Homo sapiens: one gene and its partners. The protein of the gene in region 1 purifies or fractionates together with the protein of each later gene. This does not show direct contact. Each region holds a gene or a part of one and is shown on either strand. Other genes may lie near its edges.

Region 1 (7,235 bases):
GAGGGGAGGGGGAGGGGAAAGGAAAGGGAGAGGAGGGGAGAGAGAAGAGGGGAGAGGAGAAAAGAAAGATATCCTGTGGCTGAATTGAATTGATGATGTATTAGGCCATTCTTGCATTGCTATAAAGAAATGCCTAAGACTGGGTAATTTATAAAGAATAGATGTTTAATTGGCTCATGGTTCTGCAGGCTTACAAACATGGCACCAACATCTGTTTAGCTTCTGAGAAGGCCTCAGGGAGCTTTTACTCATGATGGAACGTGAAGCTGAAGTATGTATGTCACATGGTGAAAGCAGGAGAGAGAAAGTGGCGGTGGGAGCGGTGGGGGGGCGGGGGGGTGCCACACACTTAACCAGATCTCAGGAGACTCACTATCATGAGGACAGTACCAAGCCTTGAGAGATCTGCCCCCATGACCCAAACACCTCACACCAGGCCCAACCTCCAACACTGGGGATTATAATTCAACATGAAATTTGGCAGGGACATATATTCGAACTGTATCAGGTGATGAGGAACAAAAAAGGATTTTTAAAACAAAAAAGAATTTTCAATTCTTTGGAGTTTGAGAAAGTTTAAAGTTAATTTGAAGAAACCATCTCCTCTCAAATGTGAACCATGAAGTTACCCATATATTCATTTGAATTCTTACCCTCTTTCCACTTTAGTTAATGAGACACCTCCAGTAGACTAGTATGCTTTTAAAGCTCAATACACTTTCAGTTATTACCTAATGAAAGAATAGAAAATTGTCTGTTATAGAAATTCTTGTAATTCCTAGATTTTTGCCTCTCAAGGAGGCAGCGGATAGCTGAAATCCTCTTGTAATGTAGCTGGATAATGTGTGATCTGGGAACCTTGCACTGTTTACTGCAGAACCGGTCTACAGGATTCCTATAAACATATTAAAATACTGAGCAGTGCTGGAGCACTCATTAGATAATTGCCACTCCTTGTGTCCCTGATGTGATCTGTCGTGGAGCTCACCAGGTGAGTTCACAAACGCTCCTGTCCTACCACTATGGGGAAGTGGATTTGGGTCTGCTCAGAGGCATGATGTTGAATAGCTCTTAGGAACTTTCAAGCACCTAAGAATGCAGAGACCTTTGGTCTCTAAAACTTTGAACTTAAGGCATTTCAGAGAGAGATTGCTTCTTTCTTCACGATGTTTGTGTTGTCATTAGGCGAAACAATGAGAAGTGATTTTTTCATGATGACTACCTTAGCCTTGAGGCTCAGCCAGCCCCTCATGCTGTGTACCAATACTTAAAGGCCACTCCCTGCTGTATATTCTCAACAGATTTTCTCATTTACCCCTCAGGACTGCTCTGTAAGGTTGGTATAGTCAATCCCATTTCACAGCTAACCAAGCTCAGGCTCACAGAGCCTAAATCACTTTTCCAAGTAAGTGGCAGGATTGGAATGAGGTTCCATCCCTCACCTTCCCTAGAGGACCCTGAGCACCCCCTTTTAGAAGATGGCTTTCCAGGGTTTGAGAAATGGTCAGATTCCACTCCCCTGCTATTGTAGTCCCATGGGTTCCCACTCAACAACTCCTCTGAAGATGACAGGGGAAGTGAAATCCTGTGCTTTGTGCCATGAGATCTGGTTGTAGGGCCACATGAGAGGGCTGATCCTTAAAGTGGCAAGTGGGCTCAGGCAGAAGCTCAGGTGTTGGCCTTGGGACAGGTGAGCTGCAGAGAAGGAAAGAAACATGCACTGAATTACTGTAAGCAAATGCACTTTACACCTCATCTCCTTTAATCTTAACTGCTACCCAAGGTCATTATCACCATTATTCAAATTAGGCTGCTGCCTTTAGAGGAGTTTACGTAAATCAGGGAGACAACTTTGTTGTTTCCTGATAAGCACAAACTCTGTAATACTCTAGACTTTTATCATTTCTCTTCATTCCTCCAGGGCCCTGAATGCTCTAATCTCCCTCCAGGCTGGCAGTACCTGCTCCCCAGGTGTTTTTCAATGTTTTTTCTTTGAAATTTAAGATCTGTGTAATTTTAAAGTCAAATTTTGAAGTTTAATTGGGTTAGTATCCATGATTTGTGAAACATAGTAACAAAATGGCAACTATTTCAACAGAGAATTTAAATGAAATGTACATGAACAATAAACATACTAAAATACGCCAACCCCACAAGAACTAATAAAATGCAAATATTTTAAAATCTTGAGAATTTATAATGACAAGATGCAAAAGATAAGTACCATGATTGCACTTTTGGAGAAGACAATGTGTGTGTGTAGGTGAACGTGTTGATGTGTACCTCACCTTCAGGGACATGTCTGGAGAGTATGCACCATCCTAGGAACAGCAGACCCCTTGGGGTTAAGGAGTGGGAGTTGACCAGTGAGAGCTCAGGTTAATTTTGATTTATCAATATGCTCTTGTGTACTGTTCAAAAACTGGTATTTGGGAATAAAAGTATTCTGATGAAAATTTGAACACACAAAATACTTTGGAACAAATTGTCAAAGTTAAGGTGTACATAATGTCCATTAATTTGAAAAAGCATTCCTTATATTCTATTTTATTGTGAAAGAAGTAAATAACAAGTCCAATTGACAGAGGTTTTGTGTGTGTGTGTGGGTGTTTGTGTGGGTGTGTCCTCTAGCTCTACCACCCCAAATACAAAATCATGGATGCAACTTTAGTTCCAGCGGGGATTGGAACCAATATCAGTTTCATATATTCTGGAACATGATGGATACATGGAAATTGCTACCATTAGGTGAATAATTCCAGAAAACTGTGGCTGATACATTGGAGCTAACCTCCAACCTCCATGCCTCCCTCTTCCTGAGTCCCTGGTTTGAGATTATCAGAGCTGCGTTTCTGTCTCTGGCCACTAGGAGGCATCAGAGCTATCTCTGTTTTTGTACATTTTGCAGAGTAACATGTTTCAAAATGACTTGTTTACTTTGATTCCAGTTCTGTTTGGAAAATTCACATGTATATTAAAGCAGGTCCATTTGCTGTTGACCCCTAAATCTACATCGCATTCACTGATTTATCATCTCTTCCCTTCTCAGTGTAGGTTGAAGTGTCCACACTGTCGGAGGGGGCGGGGGCGGGGGCGGGGGAGGAGGGGTCCCTCCAGAGAGCAAGGCATTCACTCTCCATAACTCTATCCCTGTACAGGCTTCTCAGACCTTCTCACACTCTCTTTCAGTCTTCCCCTCTCCAGGACACTATAGACACAGTTCCCCAGATGCTGCTCCAGTGCCTCCGACCTCTCTCCGTCACCTTTCTACAGCCCCGTCACTGCTACCTGGTGTTTCATTTTGTGGATGCCCTGGAGCATATGTTTTTACATTTACACCGATCAGTTTTTTTCTTACCAGCATGGGGAACTGGTTTTGTGTCTTCTCGGAGGCATGATGTTGAACAGTTTTCGTGAGATTATGAAACACACAAGAATGTAGAGAACTCCATCTCTAAAACTCTGAAATCAAGGTGTATCAGGGAGATTTGCCTTCTTTATATGGATGTCTGTGTTTTCATTAGGAGAAACAATGAGTAATGATTTTTCACGATGCCTGCCTTGGCCTTGAGGTTCAGCTAACCCCTACTGCTATGTCTCAATATTTAAAGGGCCATTGAAGCCTCCCATTCCATGCCATATACCCTGGACAGGTTTTCCCATTTATGCCTGGGAATAACTCCGTGAGGATGGTATAGTCAGTCCCATTTCACAGATGACCAAGCTCAGGCTCACAGAACCTAAGTCGCCTCTTGAGGTAAGTGGCAGGATTGGAATGAGGTTCTATCCCTCACCCTCCCTAGAGGACCCTGAGAGCACCTCCCTTTTAGAAGATGCACTTCCAAGGCTTAAGAAATGGTCAGATTCCACCATTCAGATCATGGCGATGTCTTTAGGGGAGTTTGTGTAAATTAGGGAGACAACTTTGTTATTGTTTGTTCTGTATTGATGAGTATTTAGAATGCTTCTCATTTTTTCCTTTTTAAAAAGATTTCAGCAATACTGTAGCAAATAACCTCTTACCTGGCTATTTTGTACATGTGAAAAATGTTTCATCCATTACATGCTTACACATCTATCCCTTGGGGCTTGATTTCAATAATTTAAACTCCCTTATATGTGTCTGAGCATTCTCATTCCTTTAACCATCTTTATACCTGTTGTAGTTACAATATTTAAATGCATTTATAACTGAGAAGTGTGTTTCCATTTCCTTGATGTATTTGGTCCCTCATCCTGCCCCCATACACAGACACACACAGAGCCACTTTTACCTTTTTCTTTTGCAAATTAAAAAAAAATTCTTATTCAGTTTTTTCTACATTGAAATTTTGTCAAACGATAGGTGATAAAAGTATATTTAGATAGTTGCATTTGCATTCCTTATATATTAGTGAGCTAGAATGCATTTTCTTATGATTATTGGCCATTTGCATTTCATCATCCATGAACCATTTATATATTTTGTCAGTTTTGCTGTTTTGTTATAGGATCTGTACGTGTGTTAAATCTAAAACCCTTCATTGATCTATGCATGCGTTATTTCAACACATCTTTCTTGGCTGAATATTATTTATGAGACACTCTAGAAAAATCCATATCCTAGATGTTTCTTCTGAGATCTTGGCTCTTATATTTATGGGAGATGTCCCCCTGCAGCAAAAAATGTGTTAGTGCCCATGCAAACATGCGTGGCTTGTCAAGGATCACATGCACAGACAGTTCACACTTACTCCTAAACCCGGCATGGCCACAGAGTAGAAAGGATGTGTGGGGCATTATATAAGGAGAGCACTGGCTCAGGATTGTGATTTCTGTGATCTCTATACTAACGGCAAGATTTTTAAAAATTACGTAACATTTCTGAGTTTGCCTTTTCTCATTTGTAAAATGAAAACAATCATAGCTACCAAAGACAATTGTTCTGAGAAGTAAAAGAACAAATTATTTTAAGCGTCATACACAGCGTAGGGTACATACGGTACTCAACACATCTTAGTCTGCTTCCTATCTCATACCCGTCCTTCCTTTAAAGGAGATTCCTTTGACATAATCCAAAAGGCATGGTTCCATAACGATCACATGAAAGTTTTAAGGGAAATGTATAGGTTTCCATGATGAATTAACTGCTGTGTCACTACTCTGTGCTGGGTAAGAAAAAGGAAAACAATCGCTGAACCGGTTTCCCAGGGTTTGTAAAAGAAAACCATCAAAGCCACCACCTCATTTCACTTTATTTCGTAGACTTCCCCATCCCATTTTTTATGTTCTATGCTAATTTCTCAAGAAAAATAGGCCCGGCACCGCCTCTGCGCACAACCTTGCTGGTCTGGCCCAGGCGGGGGGCGGGGCCAGCACGATGAGCGCCCCGGGCAGCCCCGACCAGGCCTACGACTTCCTGCTCAAGTTCCTGCTGGTGGGCGACAGGGACGTAGGCAAGAGTGAGATCCTGGAGAGCCTGCAGGACGGCACGGCCGAGTCCCCGTACAGTCACCTGGGGGGAATCGACTACAAGACGACCACCATCCTGCTGGACGGCCAGCGGGTGAAGCTGAAGCTCTGGGATACGTCGGGGCAGGGAAGATTTTGTACCATATTCCGCTCCTACTCTCGTGGTGCACAAGGAGTGATCCTGGTCTACGACATTGCAAACCGCTGGTCTTTCGAGGGTATGGATCGATGGATTAAGAAGATTGAGGAACATGCCCCTGGTGTCCCTAAAATCCTGGTGGGGAATCGCCTACATCTGGCATTCAAGAGGCAGGTGCCCAGGGAGCAGGCCCAGGCCTACGCCGAGCGCCTGGGCGTGACCTTCTTTGAGGTCAGCCCTCTGTGCAATTTCAACATCATAGAGTCTTTCACGGAGCTGGCCAGGATAGTGCTGCTGCGGCACAGGTTGAACTGGCTCGGGAGGCCGAGCAAGGTACTGAGCTTGCAAGACCTCTGCTGCCGCACCATCGTGTCCTGCACACCTGTGCATCTGGTGGACAAGCTCCCGCTCCCCATTGCCTTAAGAAGCCACCTCAAGTCCTTCTCCATGGCTAAGGGCCTGAATGCCAGGATGATGCGAGGCCTCTCCTACTCCCTCACCACCAGCTCCACTCACAAAAGGAGCAGCCTCTGCAAAGTGAAGATCGTCTGCCCACCCCAGAGCCCACCCAAAAACTGCACCAGAAACAGCTGCAAAATTTCTTAAGGAAGGCACCAAAAGGAAACAAGCTGGAATCGCTCCAGGAAAAACTCTGAATGGTTACACCTGGAAGAGGGAAGATGCATTCTAGATTCAAAGAAATACGTTTTCAGTTTCTCATGGGAACAATGCTGCTTGGGAATGTGTGTGATGCCTTCTGTCAATAAAAGCACTTTACGCAGTTTGACTTTGAATTTCTACGTGGATGTGCATGTGTTTATAAAGGGGAAATTAGTACTCTGCTTAACTCTTGATAACATGAAATTTTGAATGTTACTTATATCATAATCACACTGCATCTTTTTCCTTAAAATAACCGCTTTTGTAAGAATGGTGATATGACAGTGATGAGTATAAATTCAAGGGAATTTGAGATGCAATGATAGTGAGATCATTCCGAGTCATTGATATTACTAGAGGGGACTTTTTGTAAACCTCCTTTTTGATGTCAAAGCACCAATTTATAAAACACTGCAGATGCATATAGAGATTATACGTAACAGATCTGTCCAGTTTGTGCACGAAATGGATTTGATAAAGTTTTTGCTATGTTATTTTACTACATTTGGAGATTAATAAGTGATTTATATGTATGTTTTTCTGTAAATCTACTTTTTTGTACAAGATGTTCTACAAGATATGAAGCTAAGGGAGGAAAACGCCAAAGATATCTCTAGTTATGTTGAACATAGCCAACATGGTTTCAATGGGTCAGTAAGAAAAAAGCCATTTCAGTAAGGAATGAAATAAGTACTTATTTATGAAAATGTTTCTTAACAATAAAAAAGTATATATTTTTATCTTTTGGTAAAACGAAAAGAAAAAGAAAGAAAAATATGTATAATGTAACCCTGCAAGATTAGGCTTTGCAGAAAAACAATGCAATAGAACACGGGGGGCCAGGCCCATTATAAGGCCTTAGGTGAGTAATTTCCCCTGTGCTGGCCAGTTTTGGTTAACACCTCTCAGATCGATATAGAGGTTAATGAGATCACATCTGGGAAAGCACTTCTGAGACCTTAGATGGGAAGGAAGGAGAAGTGAT
Region 2 (7,000 bases), on another chromosome or scaffold:
CACTTCTGATTTAGCAGCACTCAATGACTCCAGCCAGAGGCTCATTACTGAAGCAGAACTGTTCAGTCTCTGTGAAAATGCCAAAAATTCCTCAAGTTCTACAGAACAACCTCTTATGAAACCAGAGCCAACAATTTCTTAAATGTCTCTGGCAGAGAAAACGTGAACTTTCTAGGGCTCTAATGGTTGGGAGAGACATTCCGAACCCTCAATTTCCCCCTTTCTTATCCCCTATTAACCGTGTCTCCTTTCTCATCCTGTATTAATCATCTGGTTTCTTTCCATCACCCATTTTTCCTAGTAAATAATTCAGGGTGGGATAGTCCTTATAGCCCACCTAATATGATAATCCACTCGACATCTGAATTTACCATACACACCCAGGAGAAGGTCATCCAACTCATATATTAAAACTTCAAGAGGGACCACTGCATTCCCTTCCTAGGCAGCCAACTCCCTCTCTAAGCAGATTTGACTGTTAGGATAGTTCTTCCTTAAACTGAACTGAAATCTGTTTTACTATAAATTCAATACATAGGTTCAATCCACTGGGACTATACAAAAAGAATCAAATCTTTTCTAACATGACCATACTTCAGTTGTTTGAAGACAATTCCCATGTTCCTCCTAATTTGTTGCTTTTCTGAGCCAAACATTCCTAGTTACTTTAATTTTATAAGATGGAGAAAAATAATCATGTCTGAAGGAAATGAATTTATCAGATTAGATATGATTTAAACCTGGGAAATAAATACTAGGATACGGCAATGCCATTGGTGTCCCAGTAAATGTCTCTCTTCATTCTTGTTATATATATATAATTTTTTTTTTTTAAGACAGAGTCTCGCTCTGCCGCCCAGGCCGGAGTGCAGTGGCACGATCTTGGCTCACTGCAACCTCCGCTTCCCAGATTCAAGCGATTCTCCTGCCTCAGCCTCCTGAGTAGCTGGGATTACAGGTGTGTGCTACCATGCCCGGCTAATTTTTGTATTTTTAGTAAAGATGGGCTTTCATTATGTTGGCCAGGCTGGTCTCGAACTCCTGACCTCAGGTGATCCACCGGCCTTGGCCTCCCAAAGTGTTGGGATTACAGGTGTGAGCCACTGCACCCGGCCTATATTTTTAAAAGAGAAAATTTAAAAATCTTCCAATATGCCAAAAACAACAACAACAACAATAAAAACAAACCCTAGAATTTTACATTTCTACCTAAATAAGAATTCAGAGAGCCTCCTGGGCTCAAGCAGTTCTCATGCCTCAGCCTCCCGAATAGCTGGGACTACAGGCATGCACCACTACACCTGGCTAATTTTTTTTTTTTTTTTTTTCGTGAAACAGGGTTTCACCATGTTGCCCAGGCTGGTCTCAAACTCCTGGACTCAAGCAATACAATCTGCCCACCTCAGCCTGCCAAAGTGCTGGGGTTATAGGCATGAGCCACTGTGCCCGGCCTACAATCTTTTATACACAGGGACAAAACCAGAAATCAGTTGGTTAATGAAAATAAGAAATAAAGTAAATGCATATTTAAAAAAAAAATTTAAAGGCAAGCGTTGCAGGGGAAAGAAAAATACAAGAAATGTATTTCTCATCAGCTCTCAGTGGGTTGGTGTCCTGAAAACACAGTCACACTGTCAAAACTAATGCACACTTACAAAAGTCTGCTCTTTAAAACTAATATCTTAATTCAGGCTGGGCATGGTGGCTCATGCCTATAATCCCAACACTTTGGGAGGCCAAGGCAGGAGGACCAGCCTGGGCAACAAAGTGAGACCCCCCATCTCTACAAAAAATTTAAAAAACTAGCCAGGCATGGTGATGTGTGCCTGTAGTCCCAGCTACTCACAGGCTGAGGTGGGAGGATCATTTACTCCAGGAGGCTAAGGCTGCAGTGACCCATGATCGCACCACTGCGCTCTAGCCTGGGCAACAGAGTGAGACCCTGTCTCAATAAATAAATTAATTAATTAGTAATAAAACTAATATCATAATTCTGGCATTCCCTTGATCCCCAAATAAAGAAAATAAGCCAAGTTAGATGGACACACATAGTAATAAATTTCTGTAAGTTTAAAAAGACTAGACTAAAACATAGACTGCTTTATGCATCTTTTTTCAAATTAGCATTTTCTTCTGTAGGTCTTCATTCTCTGCATGGCTTTGCTCAGGCTGTTCCCTCTGCCAGGAATGCCCTTGCTTTCTTTTCACCCGATGCAAACTGCTGCTCCAACCGCCCAGAATCAGACTAAAGACCATCTCCTTTATGAAGCTTTCCAAGACCTCCTAGAGTAGTTAATATGTATTTCCTTCCTTTGTGTTCCTGCTATGATCATTCATAACTCTACTACAGCCCTTATTCTTTGTGTTTTATCATCTGTGACTGTTCCAACAGCTCTTTGTCTCCACAGTGCTTATTATTATTAGCACAGTGTCTGGCATATATTAGGTATTCAAATACTTACTGAATAAACCAACCACGAGGAGCTGAAGAATCTGAGCAGGGAGGAATGAACTCACATGAATATTCCTAGGTACTGTGCAATGTAAGTTATAGAGATTGGTAGCCATCAAGCAAGTATTTGCTGAAGTGTCAGTATCATGGGAATTCTATTCAAACGCCATACAATTTGTGCAGTAAGAAACAAAGGACTAAAAATTAAATCTCTTTACTATATTATATAATTGATGTCATCTTTCAAAAATAACTGCTACTTTCCGTTAATTTCAACTGATTAAAAATGGTCACTTATCCTGCGAAAGCAGTACTTGATGGAGACAGCGTTTTTGTTTGAAGAGTCCAATGGCTGTTTATTCTGCAAGAAAGAGGTGATAAGTACCTGTAACTTACTGACCTGCTGGAAGTAGACAAAGAAGCTAGAAAATTAGATTGTGTTGACTTCTAATTCCTATTGTCTAGGTAAATTTTCACAAGTCTCTTCTTTTTCCCTTTTGTTTGCTAGGGTAATTAAAAACAAATCAAAAGACAAACAGCCCAGGGATATCAGGGATACGGGCTCTAACTGTGAAGAGCCCTGTAGGAATGCAGAGGACTTACATTAGGAATGCTTACTTTGTCCTTACTGTGTTCCACTTTAGAAAGAGTAAACAAATGCTGTCAGCTTTCCTTTACTCACGTTTTCCAAAGTGACTCAAGTTTAATTATCAAACTAAACATTACATTATTTTTTAAAGGATTTATTCAATTTCTTCAAATAGGGAATTCATGGAAAACTAAAACCATTTCAAAATTCACTTTGTCCACCAAACTTAGAGTCCAAATTGGCACAAATAAAGAACGTGGTTTTCAAATCTGCCTGACCGTCAAGAAAACAAAGTTCTTATATTTCAAGCCAAAGTAACTGGTAACACTGAACTACTGGGTTTACATTGGAGACCGTCCCATTTAATTTCCAGGGTGGTGGGACAAAATGGGCTCAGTTCTTACATAGCACACTACACATGTTTTAAAATACAAAACTTACATTGTTGCTCCCCAAATAATTGCTATTCCTAACTTGAAAAATGACTCCATTTAGCTAGTGCCATGACACAAAGTAATGAGATCTGGTTTCCTATGGAATTGAATTATGTGATGGCAAACTACTTGAGTGTTTACATCACTGGCCACCATATCCTTCTAATTCTAAAATTAATTAGATTGTACATGTTAAAACACACCAGAATCAGGTTTCTGTGTTCTGTTGTTTTAAGGCTTCACTTTCAGTAGCAAAAGCAATAGGTCAATCCATTTCCTTTTGTGAGTAAATATAGATTATTGCTTTCCAACATTTTTTACTCTGATGTTCAAGTCACACTGTACTTCAAAATGCAGGACAGCAACTAAGAGGAATTTGCCATCTGGCTAACTCATCTATATTTCAAATAAAGACTTATTTCTGGCCAGAAGGCACTTCTACCAAGATACAGTTATTTAGATTTTTAAAAATTTAGCTGACTTTTCCTATATCATAAAATTTATTTAGAGAACAACAACTACTAACAGAGAGCCCGCTGTTAGTATTTATTACTAGGCAAAGTGAAGTCAATCTTCTAACACCAAAGCTTAATTAACATATTCCGGTAGCAAAGGAGACTAAAAGAATCTAAAAACTAAACCACAGAAAAAGAAATTTAATCCATATTTTAAATGTTTATCATAAGGAGCAATTTGCAATAACCTTTCAGGCATCTATGAAACACATACAATAAAAAATTCAGCTTTGCAATAATCTTTCAGGCATCTATGAAACACATACAATAAGAAATTCAGCCAGGCATGGTGGCTCACACCTGTAATCCTAGCACTTTGGGAGGCTGAGGCAGGAGGATCGCTTGAGGTCAGGAGTTCAAGACCAGCCTGGCCAACAGGGTGAAACCCCATTTCTACTAAAAATACAAAAATTAGCTGGCTGTGGTGACATGTGCCTGTAATGCCAGCTACCTGGGAGGCTGAGGCAGGAGAATCGCTTGAACCCAGGAGGCGAAGGTTGCAGTGAACTGAGATTTCACGCCGCTGCACTCCAGCCTGGGCAATAGAGCAAGACTCCGTCTCAGAAAAAGAAAAAAAAAAAAGAAAAGAAATTAAGGCCTGGTGCACTAGCTCACACCTGCAATCTGAGCACTTTGGGAGGCCAAGGCAGGATTGTTTGAGCCCAGGAGTTCAAGACCTGCCTGGGCAAGATGGTGAGACCCCAACTCTATTAAAAACAAACAAACAAACAAACAGACAAACAGGCTAGGCACAGTGGCTCATGCCTGCAGTCCCAAAGCTGTGGGAGGCCAAGCTGGGAGCATCACTTAAGGCCAGGAATTTAAGACCAGCCTGGGCAACACAGTGAGACTCTCTCTCTACAAAAATATTTAAAAATTAGCCAGGTGTGATGGTGCACTACTTAGGAGGCTGAAGTGGGAGGAAGGCTTCAGCCAAGGAGTTCCAGGCTACAGTGAGCTATGAGGGCCATTGCACTACAGCCTGGGCAACAGCACAAGACCGACCTTGCCTGGCGAGGGGGAAAAAAAAGAAGTTAAAAAAAAAGTATTGATTTATTTATCTTTCCATAGCACAAGGGCAGGGTCTCAAATGTGCATTTATCTTGAATTCACCTATACACACTAGAAGAAAGATAACTAATTTAAATATCGGTTCCCTTAGCTGATCCTCATTCACATGCACCTCTCTGAATATAAATACTTCCCTCACTATGCATGAATGATTGTATTCATTGTATTTTTTACATATTGTGACTCCTAAATACAAACCAACAACTTCATCTGGGGCTCACAGGAAGAAAAACAGCAGTTTTTTCCAAAGCCGAAATAAAACTTGCCTGAGGATATAGAGAAAAAAAAAACCCAAACCAAACCAAAGCATTTTTGCTATTCTCTCACTCAACAATCAACACAGTATAATTCTGTGAGGGATATGTCCCCACACACCAAGCAACCAACCAATTCTGTAGCAGACACCAACCAGCTGGGTGTCCTCTAATTCAGTTCAATTCTGACACTACCTACCTGGATGGAGACCGCGTCAGATCCCATAGGTTGAGGGGTGAGTCCCACAAGACTAGCCTCCATTTTAGATACCAACCACAAGAATCAGGTTGTTTTACCTGTAGTTCTAACCAACTGGCTATTAATCAGGGTTCCCATGACCCCCTCCTTAGGTTCTATTAATTTGCTAGACCAATTCACAGAACTTAGAGGAACTTAGAGGAACACTTTACTTACATATACTGGTTTATTATAAAAGCATATTACAAAGGATACAGATGAAGCAATGCATAGGGCAAGGCATGTGGGAAGGGCACAGAGCTTCCATGCACTCTCTGGGGCACCATCATCCAGGAACCTCTCATGTCCACCTATCCAGAAGCTCCCCAATCCCAGTCTTTTGGATTTTTATGGAAGCTTCATTACTTAGACATGACTAATTAAACCAGTGACGCTGGTGGTCATCAGCTCGTCTGCCTTCTCCTCTCCCCAGAGGTTGGACATTGGTTGAAGGTCCCAACCCTCTAATCCTGCCTGGGTCTTTCAAGTGACCAGCCCCCATGCTAAAGTTACTTAGGGGCTGCCAGCCATCAGTCAGCTCCTTAGCATATAAAAAGACACTAATCATTTTGGAGATTTCAAGGATTATAGGAGTCATATGCCACAGGAGACAGGGATGAAGGCCAAATATGTATTTTACAATATCACACTGGCCATGTCAGAGTTCTGCAACACTGGTATTCCTACAATTAACATGCTGCCTCCCTGAGATTTCAAGGGTAGCTTTGCTTGTAAGCTATTTTGTCATCTAGGCTCGCTTCAGAACCTAACCCACACCTCAAGTCATACTCCATCCTCCCTCCCCCCACCCTATATAACTCCACTTCAAGACCAAATTAAAAACAAAATAAAACAAAAAAACGCAGTCCCAGTTACTCAGGAGGCTGAGACTGGAGGACTGCTTGAGCCTAGGAGTTCAAGGCCAGCCCGGGCAACATAAGGAGATACCCATTTCCCTTAAAAAAAAAAAAAAAAAAAAAAAAACTTTGCATTACAATAACCAGACAAGGCCAACTAAGATTTTTTTTTTTTTTTTTTTTGGCGCAGTGGCTCATGCCTGTAACCCTAGCACTCTGGGAGACTGAGGCAGGTGGATCACCTGAGGTCAGAAGTTCGAGACCAGCCTGACCAACATGGTGAAACTCCGTCTCTACTAAAAATATGAAAATTAGCCAGGCGTAGTAGCACATGCCTGTAATCCCAGCTACTCGGGAGGCTGAGGAAGGAGAGTTGCTTGAACCCGGGAGGCGGAGGTTGTAGTGAGCCGAGATCGCGCCACTGCACTCCAGCCTGCGCGAAGTGGGCGAGACTCCATCTCAAAGAAAAAAGATTTTTGAAGCAAATATTTACCGAGAACCTATTATGTGCAAGATACAATGCTATGTACTAAACAGGCAACTGAGGAACTTACACTCATTCAGTAAAAGACATAAGGTTGGCACACAGC
Region 3 (6,927 bases), on another chromosome or scaffold:
TAATAAGAAGTGTGGGTGCCATAGCTACACATCAATGATCAGGTACATTCAGTTAGGTCTTGCCTTTAAGCCAGTAAGTATGCACATGGAAGGCTGGGTTCAGTGACCTCCAGAATCCCTTCCCTCTCCAATAGTGTTTGCCTCATGAATTTTTTATAGCCATCCTCTGTCCTATCACACTGTCCCTATGTATCATCAAGCCCTCCTGGCCACTTCCAGGACTGAAAGGAAAATCTGTTCTTTAAAAAAAAAAAAAAAAATCCATGCTTTGACTCCTGCCAAAATTATAGTTCTGTCCTTGAAACAATGACCTGAAAATAATGGGTAAGGCTAAGAACCTCTGAGCAAATAAATGCCCAATATTATCTTCAGATAATATTTTTTAAGCTCCTCTGATATAAGCAGAACTATTACCTGAGGTCCTGGGAATGAAGATTATGAAGCTAGAAGACAAACAGTCAAATCTTCCCAACTTGTACTTTATATTCCCTGCTGAGTGTCTAACCTTAAAAAGAAGGTAGAACCAAACAAACTGAGTTTGAATCCTGGACCCATCTCTCATTAGCTGGGTAATATGAGGCAAGTTATTTAATCTTCCTGAACCTGTTTCCTTACTTGTAAAATGTTGATATGAGCTACCTTATAGAGTTACCATGACAATTAAATTGGATAATATAGAGAAAACGCTGAGCATTCATTTGTTGGTTTCCTCATTCATTCAACAAAGGTTAACTGAGGTTCCACTACCATCCAGGTACTGGGTACAACAACATAAAAGACAGAATAAAAGCTATTATTATTTACCAAAAACAGTTTGTTTCCAGAGCTGCAGCAGACCTGTCAAATTTTGACTTTAGTTCAAAACTGTCATTCACACCTAGCTTGCCTAAAATACTCATTTTTATTTTGCCAAATGTGATCCCAGGTAGGAGTCTTGCTCCTGTCATACCTTCACCCCCAAAACTAGTCATCTAGCAGGCGTTCTGCTATAGGACACCTTCAGAACACTTGGAAGAAGCATTGATCAGAGCCAAAGGTGGTATCCCAACTCTCTTCTGGGCAAGCCGCTCAGGAGAACTTGATACGCCTGTGCTACAAGGCCCATCCTGGATGCCTGGGAGTCCTTGGGTGCTTACAATTCCATGAGTGGACTCTGAGTCTTCCCAGAACTCAAGATCAATAGGACTGGCTCATCCCCATCATTGCCACTGGGGCACTGATAAAGCTAAGAGCAACAGCTAAGGGGTCTGAAAGCCACATTTTCATGAGCGTTTATGTCTTTCAATGGTGCTTTACTCTAGAGTTTTTGATAAAATTCTTTATAAATGACCCACCTCTGGAGTTAGTGGGTTTCAAGGCTGGTGGGCTCTTCTTCAATGTAAGTTTAACATTCCCTTTCCTGGCTAGCCTGCAAGCCTCCAGGCAAGCACAGGCCTAGCTGTGTCAGGTGCTGGACATTCAGCATACATTAACAATCATTTTGCACTTAGAAAAAAAAAGGTGTTTTCAATTGCATTTTGGAACCTGGGACTCAGAGCAAAAGAATAAAAGCTGAATCCTAAAATAAGAAATGACCTGCCTTGGGTTATAGTGGGGGAAGGGGTGGGCGAAGAGGGAATTCTAGAATAAAATTCAGAGCCATCTGTGAAGCTAAGGATAGGACAGTGGACAGTTGAGCTGTGCCTAAAAATCTTTGATTTGCAGACTCCTCTCATTAGGGAGCCGCCTGAATCTCTTCCCTTAGAAACTAAAATACGGATCGTGACTACCTCCAGGCAGGGGTTTTGCATGACTGCCTCCTACCTGGAGGTGACAGCCTAGTCTCTCCCCACAGAAATTCTCAGTACAAAAAGGCTGTCACTATATCCCCCCACCCCACCCCCCAATCTGATGCATCTAAAATTTAGATGTACAAAAAACAGTGGCTTCTTTTCATTTTCCTTACTCCTGGCTGGCGCCTCTAATTGCTCACTGAAAACAGTGGTTTGGATATTAATAGGCTGTAACTCAAGGCCCTACCTGAAGCTCGTTGTCAGGGAAACAGCACTCCAGCCCCGCAGCTGCTTCCCCAGCCTGGGAAGTACGGATGAGTTGGTGGGAGTTGGGGATTGTTTTACAGCTTCTGTTATTTCTCCCACTTTCTGCTATTTCTCAAGACCAAGTTAGAGGAAGAGGGGAAACTGGAGAGGAGGGTGAGGGTAGAGTAGCCCGGAGAAGCTTAGAGGAAGAGAGGAACTCTTTGGGAGAGGAAGACTAGGGGTCCTTGAAGTATGGCTTGGGGCACTAGGATCTTTCCTCCCTCGGTCTACACGGGGTCACTCTCTGGGTGGCTCCCAGCACCCGGAGGCCCGGCCCCCTCTGCTGCCCTCACCTGTCCCTCCTGCCTGGGCGCTGGGTGGCCCGAGGAGAGCGCAGCCAAGTTCCCCAGAAGAGGGATATGAGCGGCCACAAGGCTGAGAAGCCGGACAAAAAAAGGCAGAGAGCAGCGCTGCGGTCGGACGGGCTAGAGGCGCAATCCCCTTCGCTCCCAGGCCGGGGTCCTGGAGAAGGCGGACGAGAACACGCACCCCCGTCACCCTCTCCCTGCGCCCCGGGGTGACGGACTCTCCGGGATCCCGCTCTCCAAAGCTAGCACCAAGTGCCTCGGACGCCCGCGCGCGTTCCCGCGTCCCGGGATGATCTTTGCCGCAGCTGCCGGGCTTCCCGGGCCCCGCACCCCTCCCACCCCACGCCCGACAACCGGGGCTGGACTCCCACCCGGTCCTCTGGGCCCTGCGCGTCAGGCGCCCCCTGGGCCCAGCGCTCCTTTGAGCTGGCGCCGCGCGTCCCAGCCTTGCGCACCCGCACCCAGCTCCCTTGGCCGCCGGGCCCTCCTGGGACTCACCTGCCCTGGGACTGAAGCGGGGGCCACCCCGAGCCCGGGGGTGGCGGCGGCGGCGGCGCAGGGGGAGGAGGGCAGCGCGGGGCTCCTGGCACAGCGGCCGCCGGGCGCCTGGTGCTGCCGAGCCGCGGACCCGCCCAGAGATATAAATAACATTATCTGAGGAGGGACATTCCTGCCGGGGGACATCGCTGCTGCCGGGACCAGATAGTCCCGCGGCGGGGGCGGGGAGGCGGGGCCGCAGCCTCCCGCAGCGCCAAGCCCAGCCCCCGCCTTCCCCACCCACTCACGCACCTGCCAATCAGCCTCCGCGCCTGGGGGCACCTGCCGGGCCTCAGCCCGGCTCCTGGAACCCGCCTCTGCCTCCCCGCCCGCCGCTGAGCCTGGGGCGCCTCCATCGTCGTTCATTGCCCCTAACCCCGCGCCACCCCGAGCCCCCTGAGGCGGGAAGGGGGTTGGACTCTAGCTCGGGCCTAATTCGTGCGCCCGGAGAGGCAAGCCTGGTGGCGAAAATGAGCCCTCCAGCCTTTCCCGCCCTGCATCCCCACTGCACACAGTTCAGTTTTTAAAATATATGAAAAGACATTTAGGCCATAGGGTGGGCGCGGCGGGTACCCGGGAGGTGAACCCCCGCCGTGGCGGGTTTGGGAGGGACAGATTGTTCCCGGGGGCTGGTGCATTAGAAAGCGCGCTCCCGGGCGGGCTTCTCTCGGCTGGCGGTGGGAGGGCAGGGGGCGGGCACTGGGCCCGAGGGCCCCACCCCCAGCCCGAGCTCAGTGTCGCTGTTTCTGCCCGAAAACCTAGTGTAATCAGGACGAACCAGGCAAAGCTGGCGGCGCGCAGCCTGCAGTCCCAAGGAGCTCGCACATTGTAGGGACTGTAATCAACAGGCAGGCTGCCACACCTGCCCACTGGCACCTCCTGGCCGGCCCGGGTCTCCGGGCGAGTGGGGGTGCCTCACTACAAGCCTGGATGAGGCGCGGCGCAGCAGGCCAGAGGAAATACTAGAACCGATGGTGCCAAAAAGGCATCTCCGAGTTGCCCCCGGAGAGAAACTCAATAGAACACCGGCAGCTTGCAAGGCAGTACATTTTCTTGACTTTCTAACGATCAAGGTCATTGTTCAGTAAGGTTTACGTGTACGCCTTGAGGTAGCTTTCATCTCTTTTCTCCACCTGCGGTGCCTGGGATGATTTCTCACCAGCTATCAACGCAGGTAATCTCAGGTATTATGGAAATGGCCGTGGAGATTAAAAGCGCATAGATGCAGAAGAAGTTTTAACTTTTACTGATGCTGCCTGGTGTTCTTAACAAGGGAACAGTCTTACTCCTGAGTTATTTGCTTGGGATTATAATTGTGCTGTTTTCCAGAATTCACCCAGGAAAGGGGTGTTTGCCAGATGTTCGAGTTTAGTTTATATATTGAACATATGCAAAGATACTTCACTTCCTGCTGCAGTCCCACTTCTTGAGGGTGGGTATTTAGACACTGAGATGTGCTGAGTGGGACAAACGCCCCAGGTATTACAGAGCCACAGAATTCTTCACTCCACCCTCCTCTTGGCTGGATCCTTATTACAGCTCAATTTTCCAAGAGACACTAGTAATATGGGAAAGAGGATACAAAAACATTCATGGTCATCGATAGATTCGCAGTGATCCCCTCCTCCCCTTTGTTGACAACATTTAAGAATGCATTTTTCTATTACTGAGTTAAAAAGAGAAAGTTCTGTTTTGTGAAAAAAAATGTTTAAAAGTCAAATTCTGGCAAGGAAAGCTCAAGAAAAACAGGCCAACTTCAAAAGCTGAGACTATTATATATCTCAAGAAGAAATCCTTCATCTATTTTTGTTAGAAAAAAATGGAGGGAAATTATGTATTTATGGTTTTTTAAAAGCTTGTATGAATAAACTTATTAGATAAATTCATGGTTCTCTAGAATGGTGGTTCTGCAGCTACGTAATTATATACTATGCAAGCCAGATAATTCCTTAGCTATAGGTCTGTGGCACTGAACTGAATAGTTGCATACATATTTTTCTTTGTAGCCTTAAAATTTATAATTTTCAACCATAAGAAAAAATTAATATGATAAAACTCCAAATCAGCAGACAGATTACCCCAACATTTTACAAACCAGCTCAGCTGCTTTAGTTATCTCCACTTTAGCTGAAAGCTAAATAATTCAATACAACCTCATTTGCTACAGAGCATGTTATCCTGACAGCATCCCCAAATGCTTTACAGCTAATAGAGTTACAGTGAAATGATAAATCAGAACTGAGGAAGAGAGGAAATTTAGGCTTGCAGTGAGGAAAGGGCATTGTCAAATAATAGGGAAAGGGGAACAGATCTCTGTGGCCAGGAATGAGAAATTGGGAGAATAAAAGAAGGGAGAAAGGTTGGGCATGGTGACTCACACCTGTAATCCCAGTACTTTGGGAGGCCGAGGCAGGCGGATCACTTGAGGTCAGGAGTTCAAGACAAGCCTGGCCAACATGGCAAAACCCTATCTCTACTAAAAACACAAAAATTAGCTGGGTGTGGTGGTGCGCACCTGTAATCCCAGCTACTTGGGAAGCTGAGGCAGGAGAATCACTTGAACCTGGGAGGCATAGGCTGCAGTGAGCCAAGATCACGCCACTGCACTCCCACCTGGGTGACAAAGCAAGACTCTGTTTCAAAAAAAAAAAAAAAAAAAGAAGGGAGAAGGAAACACATACATATGTTCGTTATCAAGGTCATCATTGTGGGCAATAGGGATCACGTCTGGAGGGACCTCCTCAGAAGAGTATAGAATACCTCTTGGAATTGTCTATGTGAAGGATAGGAGATTAACCCTCATCCTGGTTGGACAAAGGACTGCCCCCACTGGTCTCCCACCCATGTTGAAAACCTACACTTCCGAGCTACCCAGCAAGCTCCACATAGGCAGTCTGCAGATTTGGAAGAGTTCTGGGGCCAGAAGAGAAGGTGTGCATTTGAGAATAGATGTTGACAGCCAGAGAGTGGGGGGTAAACCTTCACAGAACTGTCTACTCAGGTCTAGCTGAAACCAACAGGTGAGGCCAAGAAGATATAAGTTGAGACTTATGTTAGAATCATCTAACATAAGAGGGAACTTTCACTTTCCATTTCTGTAGTCTTTGAGTTTTTCACAATAAGCTTGTATTGTTTAATAATAAGTAGAGATGATAAATAAATTAAAAAGTAAAGATTGGATGGAGATGGTGGATTGAATACACGCATTTAGCTTCTCTTCTACCCCAAATTTCATTAGAAGATATGTCTGAAACAGGCATCTAAAAGCACAGGAAAATAAGGAAAAGGGGATCAGTGTTCCAACAATGTTCAAGAAATCCAGAGATACAGAAAAGATGCAAGATCTGATTCACAGAGAAACAAAATCAGAGGAAACCAAAACAGATTCAGGAGGAGCAATAGTTTAGGGAAGTTGCAAGCAATAGTTAAAGGATACAAGAGGAGGAGGGGCCCTGAGACAGAATAATTCACTTAGGAGCCTCCTCTGTCCTGCTCACATTAAATATCAGGTGTTTGCCTGCAGGACTTAAAAAAAAAGTTAATGGGGATCCTGGGACCCAAGGGGCAGAGCTCAGGGATCTAGTGACCCCAAGAAATGACAGAAACCATTCACTCTCTTGGGATAGCATGTCCTGACCCTTCTTCACAGCCCCTGAAGATAGGCTATGATAAGCAGAAAGAGGAGACAAGCCCATTCCCACATTAAGGGATGATAGGACAACCACCAAATATCTTATGGGGAGAGGGGAACCAATACCATGAAAGAGAAGCACCAAACCCAACTAATAGAAGGAAATAATATCAGAGGAAACTAAGTTAATAAAAGGAACAAGATAAATGTTAAATAATTTAATTTTAATCAGCAAGTCTTGAAAGGATATTGCATCCACAACAAATAATCAGTGAGAAACCTTAGAAATTTAAAAAGTCATTTCTGATATTGAAAATTCATTAGTTGAGAAGCAGAACAGACCTACTTGAAGGGCAAATTAGTGGAAACAGAA

The links.
Region 2: the proteins of RAB40AL (region 1) and PSME3IP1 purify together in Homo sapiens (affinity purification with mass spectrometry; 3 studies listed by BioGRID and IntAct, with this or other methods). This does not show direct contact.
Region 3: the proteins of RAB40AL (region 1) and SPTB purify together in Homo sapiens (affinity purification with mass spectrometry; 3 studies listed by BioGRID and IntAct, with this or other methods). This does not show direct contact.

Annotation. Positions count from the first base shown.
Region 1 is NC_000023.11:102,931,960-102,939,194, forward strand, and holds RAB40AL (ras-related protein Rab-40A-like), read left to right. Parts: upstream 1-5,312; 5' UTR 5,313-5,359; coding exon 5,360-6,196; 3' UTR 6,197-6,341; downstream 6,342-7,235. UniProt on the Homo sapiens protein: May act as substrate-recognition component of the ECS(RAB40) E3 ubiquitin ligase complex which mediates the ubiquitination and subsequent proteasomal degradation of target proteins.
Region 2 is NC_000016.10:57,176,040-57,183,039, forward strand, and holds part of PSME3IP1 (PSME3-interacting protein), read right to left. Parts: intron 6,512-7,000; exon of another isoform or gene 5,578-6,511; coding exon of another isoform or gene 5,515-5,577; intron 2,814-5,514; exon of another isoform or gene 2,463-2,813; intron 1,115-2,462; exon of another isoform or gene 1-1,114. UniProt on the Homo sapiens protein: Promotes the association of the proteasome activator complex subunit PSME3 with the 20S proteasome and regulates its activity.
Region 3 is NC_000014.9:64,876,908-64,883,834, forward strand, and holds the start of SPTB (spectrin beta chain, erythrocytic), read right to left. Parts: upstream 3,001-6,927; 5' UTR 2,885-3,000; intron 2,541-2,884; exon of another isoform or gene 2,372-2,540; intron 1-2,371.